Linked DNA regions of Homo sapiens: region 2 is reported to be linked to region 1. The links are microRNA targets in miRTarBase. Many come from high-throughput screens and were not tested one by one. Region 1 holds a microRNA gene; the other region holds the end of a gene's coding sequence.

The links. Region 1 holds the annotated microRNA hsa-miR-8080 (GAAGGACACUGGUGUCAACGGCU, at 1,255-1,277, shown strand). A microRNA usually pairs through its seed, bases 2 to 8, with sites in the 3' UTR of a target mRNA and lowers its output. Matches are read on the target gene's strand: a 7mer-m8 pairs with bases 2 to 8, a 7mer-A1 pairs with bases 2 to 7 and ends in A, and an 8mer does both.
Region 2: the mRNA of HOXA1 is a reported target of hsa-miR-8080. Seed matches in the 3' UTR shown: 7mer-m8 at 975-981.

What each region holds. Positions count from the first base shown.
Region 1 is chr2:79,863,429-79,867,827 of GRCh38, reverse strand. It overlaps MIR8080 (microRNA 8080), which reads left to right and starts at 1,245; the gene lies at 1,245-1,333. All of the region lies in intron 4 of CTNNA2 (catenin alpha 2), which reads right to left.
Region 2 is chr7:27,090,692-27,095,028 of GRCh38, reverse strand. HOXA1 (homeobox A1) reads left to right here. Exons shown (of 2, transcript NM_005522.5): 2 at 234-2,036. The coding sequence ends at 589. Among named protein-coding and RNA genes, the nearest start is that of HOXA1, 3.1 kb to the left of the region's middle. RefSeq lists enhancers at 1-441, 442-942, 2,531-3,441.

The DNA of each region.
Region 1 (4,399 bases):
GGGAAGAGCACAATAATTATCTCAGAGGGAGCTAAATTCTGGATTTGTTTTCTAATATATATAAAACAGGCTTCTCATAGGCTGTTAATCAGACCAATTTGGAATACTTATTTTACGGTGTTACACATAACTTATTTTCTCAGTGGTTTTCTCTGAAGAATCTAGATGCCAGTTTTAATTTCTTATAATTCAATAAAATATTTTTCCAAAGAAACACCAAGAATGGGGTCTTTCCGTGTAAAGGTAAACTTAAGTTACATGCAGAGTTTGAATCCAGAAGGATCTAAGAAGTCTAAAAGTTCTCACAAAGAATCACGGGGCAGAATCTGTCCAAGGTCCCACAGAAATAAAGGAAATGGAACTAAAGTCTGGATTATGGGCACACACTACTAGTAGATAGATGAGAGATGGAGATGGATGGATGGATAGGATAGATAGACAGATAGATTAGATAGATGATTGATGGATGATTGATAGATAGACAGATAGATAGAATATTGAAGGGACGTAGAAAAAGAAGAAAAAATAAGTTTAGTGAACAGACAATATTGACAATTCAAAATTAATATAAAAATTAAGTCTTTATTTTTGAACAGTCAAGGATTTTGAACAGTCAAGGATCTTTTGTCCTTTCTGGGCAGCTAGAGAAAGGAAAGTGACTCCTATGGCCCAAACAAATACCTTGCTCTCAAACATTTACTGTTCATGGAGGAGTTCAGGACTGCGAGTTGAACAAAGAGCAGAAGATACAGAAGAAAACCCTGGGACACTTTAACCAAGATACACCTGTCTGGGCCCCACCATGAAGAATGTTAAGTACAACTGTGTGAGGAGGGCTATGAGGTCAGATTGGTCTGGATTTGAACCCCAACGATGTCATTGGCAAGCTCTGTGATCCAGGGCAAGCTATTTAACTTCTCCAATCCTCACGTCTTCATTAATAAAATGAGGATAATAATGTCTACACACTATGCACAGATTTTGTGGGAATTAAAGGAGATAAGAAATGCAAAATATCAAATCATACATATTAGCAAAATCATACATTTGCTTAGCAAAATGTATGGCAAGAATTAGGGGCTCATTAAATAGAGACACCAACTTGCTGCATGGGGGAAAAATGCCTTAATAATTTTGAAGATAAAGGTTTTTATCTTACTCTTGGAAAGTCTGTGGATGACAGGGGCTCTGGCAGAACTAGAAAGAAAGCTGCAGAGAGAATACAGGCAGTGGGCTGCCTAGTGATGGCTCTAAGAAGGACACTGGTGTCAACGGCTGAGCCCTTTGATAAGGGGGAGGTTTGGAAGACACTTATGTCCTGGATTGGGAAATGATTTCTAATGAGCTGACATAAAGGGATCCCTCAGAGGCAGCTGTCATACCCTTTCCCATTAAAAATGCCCTCATGATCTTGGACATTACAGCCAGGCATTCTTCTCCCGCTGACCAGGCTGGGCTTATAAACACCAAAGCCAGAACTCTTTGCTAAACCACGTATTTTTGTCCTTAATATTTATAACCAGTGCATAGATAAAGCTGAAAAGACTGACACTTCTAGAGAAGACACTAAAATTTATTCCCAATTTAGTGGGTTAAGAAATTCTTTTCAGAACTTGTCACTTACAACTCTTAAAATCTTGGCCTTTTCGCAGGCCTGTTCAAAATAGCCTGTACCACCATTCCTAAAGCAAGCCTGTCTACTCCTATTATTTAGTCTAGAACTGTGTCATATTGTTTGAGATAGTCATTAAATCAGTGTCTAATTTTCCTGGTTGAAACTGTACTTACTTACTTCAACATAAAAAAGCAGGCTGGCCGCGGTGGCTCACGCCTGTAATCCCAGCACTTCGGGAGGCCGAGGCGGGCGGATCACGAGGTCAGGATTTCGAGACCATCCTGGCTAACACAGTGAAACTCAGTCTCTACTAAAAATACAAAAAATTAGCCAGGCGTGGTGGTGGGTGCCTATAGTCCCAGCTACTCAGGAGGCTGAGGCACCAGAATGGCATGAACCCGGGAGGCGGAGCTTGCAGTGAGCCGAGATCGCGCCACTGCACTCCAGCCTGGGCGACAGTGCGAGACTCCGTCTCAAAATAAATAAACAAATAAATAAATAAAGCAGCCCTATAATTCATTTATTCATTAAATATTTATGCAGAGTCTACCATAAGGTCGGCATCTGGGGATGGGATAGTGTGGAATTGAGGAGTCTGATACATCCCTGCCTGCACTGTGTGTTCTGGTTCCCTGTAGAAAATTGCTGGCTATACCATTACTAGAAATCGTTGCTGTTATGATTATCATTTCTGTTTGGACAGACTGACCCCATTCCAGGGTTTACTATTGTTACCTAAGTTGACTGGATTTTAAGTGACACTGACAAAACTATTTAATGGATCATATGTAAATCTCTTGTTACAGTCTACTTTTACAGTGAAATTTAAAAATAACTATCTTGGAAATAGGAGTTGGCCAAATGCATGAAAGAATGAATGCATGTAAGACCCGCCATCTAACTATTGTACTTATTTAATCAGATACTCTGGTATGGCCATTGGTGTCTCAGCATTATCATACTTTATATTTCTGCCCCATAAAGTTAAGTTGGTCTTCTTGATTAAATTGTGTCTTTCCTTGTCAACAAGGGAAGAAAAAAATGATTTCATCAGAAGCAAAGAATGATTACATGCTAGTGTCATTGATGCTTAAAGCGCATCAATGTGTGTTATACAAATGTGTGTATAAGTGTGTTATACAAAGCACAACAATTTAGTTTATTATATATTTCCAAAGTTATTTTCAGTTTGTACAAAAAAAAATGACACCAGTGTCATTGAGTTCTTCTGATATACAAGATAGTGTTCTAAATGGCTTACGTCTATCTTATTTAGTCCCAAAAAACAGTTCTTTGAATTTGATGGTTTTCTTATTCCCTATGCTTATCCGGTAGAGACTGAAATCGGAGGAGAGGAGTTGTATAACCTGTCAGAAGTCTCACAGCAAGTAAGTGTAGGAGCCTGGATTTGAGCCCAGGTAGTTTGCTCCAGAGCCCATACTCAATTTCTGAGCTATGCTGCATTGATTTTTCAGAAAGGGTGAGTTTCTAAAGCCTTGCCCCATATGATTGGTCTCCAAGTTCTATTCACTGTGCCTCTATATCCTGAGTATCTGTAAAATCTACCTCTTTTTCACAATAAACACTGCCATTGTCTTAGCCAGCTTTTCATTCATTCATTGGCCTAGATAATTTCAACAGTCTCTTTATGTGTTCCTCTTCTAATTCCTTCTCCACACTGCTACCAAAATTATTTTTCTAAATCACTAATCTGAATCAAATTATTAGTACTACTCAGTGGCTCCCCATAACCTATATATAGAGTGCAAACTAATTATCATGTTATCCAAGACTGTCCATAACCTGGATCTCTCTGTTCAACTTTGTTATTGCCTCTCCCCACCTTGCCCACTATGCACCAACAATAGAATCACTGGTGTTTCAAACACTCCAAGACTCCTCTCTTAATCTCATGCCTTTGTTCTTTCCTTGGTTCGTAAAGCTCTTTCTGTAGTTAAAATCTGTTGCCTGACCTGAATCTATCATCTCCCTTCTTATGGTAATAGAACCCTATTTTCCTTCAGTAACATGCTCTTTTCCTGCATAGGCTATCAAATCCAAATTCACCTTTTCTGCTAACACTATGAAAATATGGATGGGCCGCTGAAATATTACTCCTTTCCCAGTTGGCCTGATGTTAAGCTTTGTCAGTAGAGGGTGTTGCATAGACGCTGCCAGAGGAAAGGGTTTGGTTCCTGGTTCTGGTGTGCTCCTTCAACAGGCTCCTGCAGCAGAGGAAGCTTCTCCAGCACCAGGTGGCCAGCAGCTTCCCTCAGTATGCCCCGCTGTGCAATTCTGTAGCAGAATGCCTCCAGCAAGACACCCCTCCATGAACAGCTTTCCTCAACAATCCAAAGGGCAGATTTCTAGCAAGCTCCATTATATTGTGTGGCACCTTAGTGACTCCTTTGTCATCAAGTGACCCAAGGCCACACCCTCCAACAACATCTGGATCTCAGGCCTGGTAGGGTGGGGTCCTCCCTAGAGTGCCCTATGCCAGCCCCAGGGGTAGCAGCTTCTCCTCATATCTGCCATTCCCATATTCCTTAAGAGTTCTTGTCATTTCTTATGAGCTAATCCCTTGTTATTCCAAACTGCTATTAGTGTTAAGAATTATTTAAATGTTCCCTGTTTAAATGACTGAGTGGTTGTGTTGTCATCATTGGACAGAATGATTCATCCCTCAACTCTGTGATGGGGCCAACTCTTTCCACTTATCCCCAACTTTCAGCCCCCAGCTTGGACTTGAGACTCCGACTTATTGAATCTAGGCCCAGCGATAGG
Region 2 (4,337 bases), not on the chromosome of region 1:
GTGACGGTAGTGTTCTGTTAATATCTTGAGGCTCCATTAATCACCGGTCTGACCATGCTAATGGTTTACATCAGGTTAACACTTTACACCTCATCACTCACCCTCCACAGCCCGATTTGTGCTGAGTTCTTGATCTTTTCTTTACCTGAGTGTTGCCATGAAGCGTGTGGGGAATCTCAAGTCGATTTAAAAATTTTTACATTTCCGTCTCATGGCTTCCCACTTTGCCCCAGGGAAAGTTGGAGAGTACGGCTACCTGGGTCAACCCAACGCGGTGCGCACCAACTTCACTACCAAGCAGCTCACGGAACTGGAGAAGGAGTTCCACTTCAACAAGTACCTGACGCGCGCCCGCAGGGTGGAGATCGCTGCATCCCTGCAGCTCAACGAGACCCAAGTGAAGATCTGGTTCCAGAACCGCCGAATGAAGCAAAAGAAACGTGAGAAGGAGGGTCTCTTGCCCATCTCTCCGGCCACCCCGCCAGGAAACGACGAGAAGGCCGAGGAATCCTCAGAGAAGTCCAGCTCTTCGCCCTGCGTTCCTTCCCCGGGGTCTTCTACCTCAGACACTCTGACTACCTCCCACTGAGGCGGCTCCAGCCCCAGACAACAGCCCAGGCATCTCCTTGGGCTGGGACTTCTTACCCAAAGCACATGCTTAGCTTATCTTTCTTTCCATTTACAGTCTCTTTCTTCCTTTCTAATCCTATCTGGGGAGCTCCTGGCCAGGATAATATATTTGCAGATAATTCTGGACCAGAGACTTGGTGCGGGGTTAACACCTTCATCCAGATTGGGTGCCAGCATACATTTTCTGGTGGGCCTTAACATCCCTCCTGCTTTTAGGAGAATTCACAGAACCTACTGTTCCTTTCAGATGACCTTTTGGAAAATAGTTCCCTTTGCCAACAGAAACATGCCAGAAGGAATCTTCTCATCTTTTATCTAACTATATGTACAGCTCTCCCCTCCCTTGTCCTTGAAAGTAGGATATAGCGAAAGGCGAGTCCAGGAGCTCAGGAAGAAGAGATGCACTATATGTTTACACAATTAATTCATCCCTTAATTTAAGTCATTTTCATGTGTGTGAGTTTGCTGGTTGTAAATACTTTGTCCTAAGAGATTTATCTTTATACAGATTTTCTAGAAATGTTTAGGTTACTAAAACAGGGTGGGCAAACTCTCTAAACTGGTACAATTTTATAGGTGAAAGAAAAAATTCCCTCATTTAAACCCAATCAGATGCCTCAGAGGGTAGCCTTGATTTGTTCTTACAGTTAAGAAGCCCTGCAGAGCACAAACTTCAGAAACCCGGCTTCCTGTGCTAAGTCTTTCCCAATCTCTACCCCTTTCTTCTCGGGCCACCCTCTGTTTAAAATTTGTGCTGGGTTATTCAGAACCTAAAAGTATTATTCAAACCAATTTCTTCCTTCCACAGTTATCTTAGCTGGATATAATGTATTTTCAGCTCAATTGTTAATGTGATGGATGGCACAATGAATGTATATTTTGTGTTATTCGTGAATAGTCTTTTGCATGTCGCACAATGTTTGATGTCCCCAAAGTACCACACTGAGTTCTATCAGTTATCCTTTGTGAGCCTATGATATTCCCCATTTCCTGTACAATCATGAACAGCTCTGAGATCCTGGAGTGATATGATCCAGAGCAGAGTTTACGGGTCTTAGGATGTCTGTAATAAATAAATATACTCAAGTTTCAGGTATGCTTAAGCATCCGTGTATTTGGCTGGGCTACAATTTGTTAATTCCTATGAAGTTGGCACATTTCATGAGGGGAAAGGGAGAAGGGTGGTAAATATTTTCAAAGAGATGGGCCTTTTCTTGAATAAAAGTTAATAACAGCTCCTTTATTATAATCAAAGCTCATAATGGAAAAAAAGACTGATGAAGAAATTTATGAAGCAGATTTATTTTTGAAACAAACATGGATACTTCCTGGGTCAAGTGCTAACCTTTTCACCTCCAACTGGATGTTGACGTATATATAAACAGAACTCCCTTCAAAAGCCAAAACTGTCTTCAGTCAGTCTTTCCTCACATCAGTGAACCAAGAGCTAAGAGATTCACATTTAATTAGCTCCAGTATAAAGTTGTTGTGAGGATGGGGCCCTTATTCCACTCCTCTTCCTTCTTTTTGGATTGTCAGGCAGAGTTCTGATATATTCCACCCTTGAAATGGAGTGTTTTTAGTAAACCCTTGCATCCCTTCCCCCATTCTTCCTGTCAACATCCATCCCTTCCTGCGGCTCTTCACCCCTTCTTCCCCATCTCTGGGTTGCACATCTTATTCCCTTCAGACTCAGCTTTGATTTCATAGCCGTCATGGCTGTAAAGGATCCACAGTTCTAATTCCATGCCACATAACCCAGAAAAAAAAAGTCATTTTCTTCTCTGGGCTCCACAGGTACTTCCAGGTGAACTTGTGGAAGCTACCCTGAAGTCTTTCAATATCCAAGTTGTTTCTGACCAAGGTATGTATCTGCTCTCAAAAGAGGAAGCCAGCAAATGATAGAGTTCAAAGTGGCTCTCCTCCCAGGCCTCTTTATTGCTTTCCTTTACTTTCACACATTTTTGGAGGCATTTTATTTAGCCCAACAGTACAGCAGAAAATTTACAGCATTGAAAACAAACACAGACAGATGACTTCCTTCCTCCCCAAAGGGTGTTTTACAAAGGACGGGCTGGAGGAGAAAAACCCTACAAAAATTTGGAATTTGCAGGCCGTCTAGGGCACTTGTGAGAATTCCTGCACTTCCCTGTCAAAGAAGAGAAGGCTGAACTTTGCGGTGCAGTTGCTGCGGCCATATCAAGGGCACCGGGTGCCCTCCCCTCAGCTGCTGGGTTCTGAGGTTGCCTGTAAAAGACTCAAGTGGATGGAGAAGAACTTCAAAGACGGTCAACCCTTTCTTTCATTTCCTGCCTGGCCTTATACTGTATCTTTTGTTTATTAGTGTAGGGCCACACAGCAAAACAGATGGCTGGCTTCCAAATACTTTAATGTGTTAAAGTGTCATTTGCATGCCATTGACTCCATTTCAATATCTAAAAGCAGGGCGAGATCCACTGGAATCCCAGAGATTCCAGTCTTTAAGATGCTGGTTTTAATGTAGCAGCAAGAGAGAACAATAAATTATGGCTAACCATCTCTAGCTTTCTCTAGGTCATGGAATAAATCAGTTAACAAGCAATGCATTTAGGAAACATTAATACACCTTTCAACAAGGAAAACATTTGTATCTTTTTAGCTGTCTCAATCGATTAAATCAAAGGCGCTTAACACATCCTATTTCAAGGTCTCTCTGCTTTGGTCTCTAAGGAGCACAGTTAGCTACTTGAAAAATGACAGCAATGGTAACTGAAACAACACAGAGTGGGAAAACTGAAAATAACATTTTATTGATACATTTACAAAGGAAACAAGGGTCTCAGTTAGGCACCTGGGATAACTGCGATACAAAATTCTAGTTTTCCAATGTTTTTTTCCTCACTTCCTCTACATTTATCCACAGTACTCCCCAAATACAGAGTGTTCCCAAACTAGGCTGAGTTGAGGTCTTGCTTTGGCTCTGAAGTCTGCTCTGGGTTTCACCTTTTAAAGTTTACTTTTGGAGGCTATTCAAATGCGGTGGTGTTTTCCTCTGGGGCAATCAGATTCAAACCGATCAATATTTACTCAGTCTGAAAGGGTTGTTGAAAAGGCTGCTAACAACAAACTGCTTAGCTGCTCACCCCTGTTTAATCTCAGGTTCACCGAAAGTTCAAGAAGAGATGAATGCAGTGATGGGTCACTTTAGAATGAGTCCCAGCAGTTTATCTGAGCTCTCAACTAAAGGCAACAATTATAGTTCCATCCCTCTTTGGAAAAGGGGCAACTTTCCTATTATTCTTTTGCTAAACAATGTTTACTAGAAACTTAAAACACTTTCCTCTCCCCTCTTGGTTCTTTTCTTTTCTTCCTTTTTTTCTTTTTTGTTTTTTGTTTTTTGGAAGCTTCCAGCTGCCCTTCTCCTGCCCCCTCCTCTAGTTTTCTGCCAATCCATTCAGTTTCATTTGACTTTAAATAAATCACATCAAATATTGTTAAAATGTTAAATTAGTCTGACAGAAGATATCTGATTTATTTCAGATGCCACAAGCTATGAAATGAAGCTCTTTGGGCCATTAGAGTTTATCTTTGTGAAAGTACAGGGCAAGATTGAATTGAAATCCATTTGTGTTTGAGTAATATTGACAATCAGAGCCCCAATATCCATCTGAGATGGCTGTTGAGTGGGAAAGGGGGGAGGGAGAATTGGCTTGCGCAGAAGCAAATAC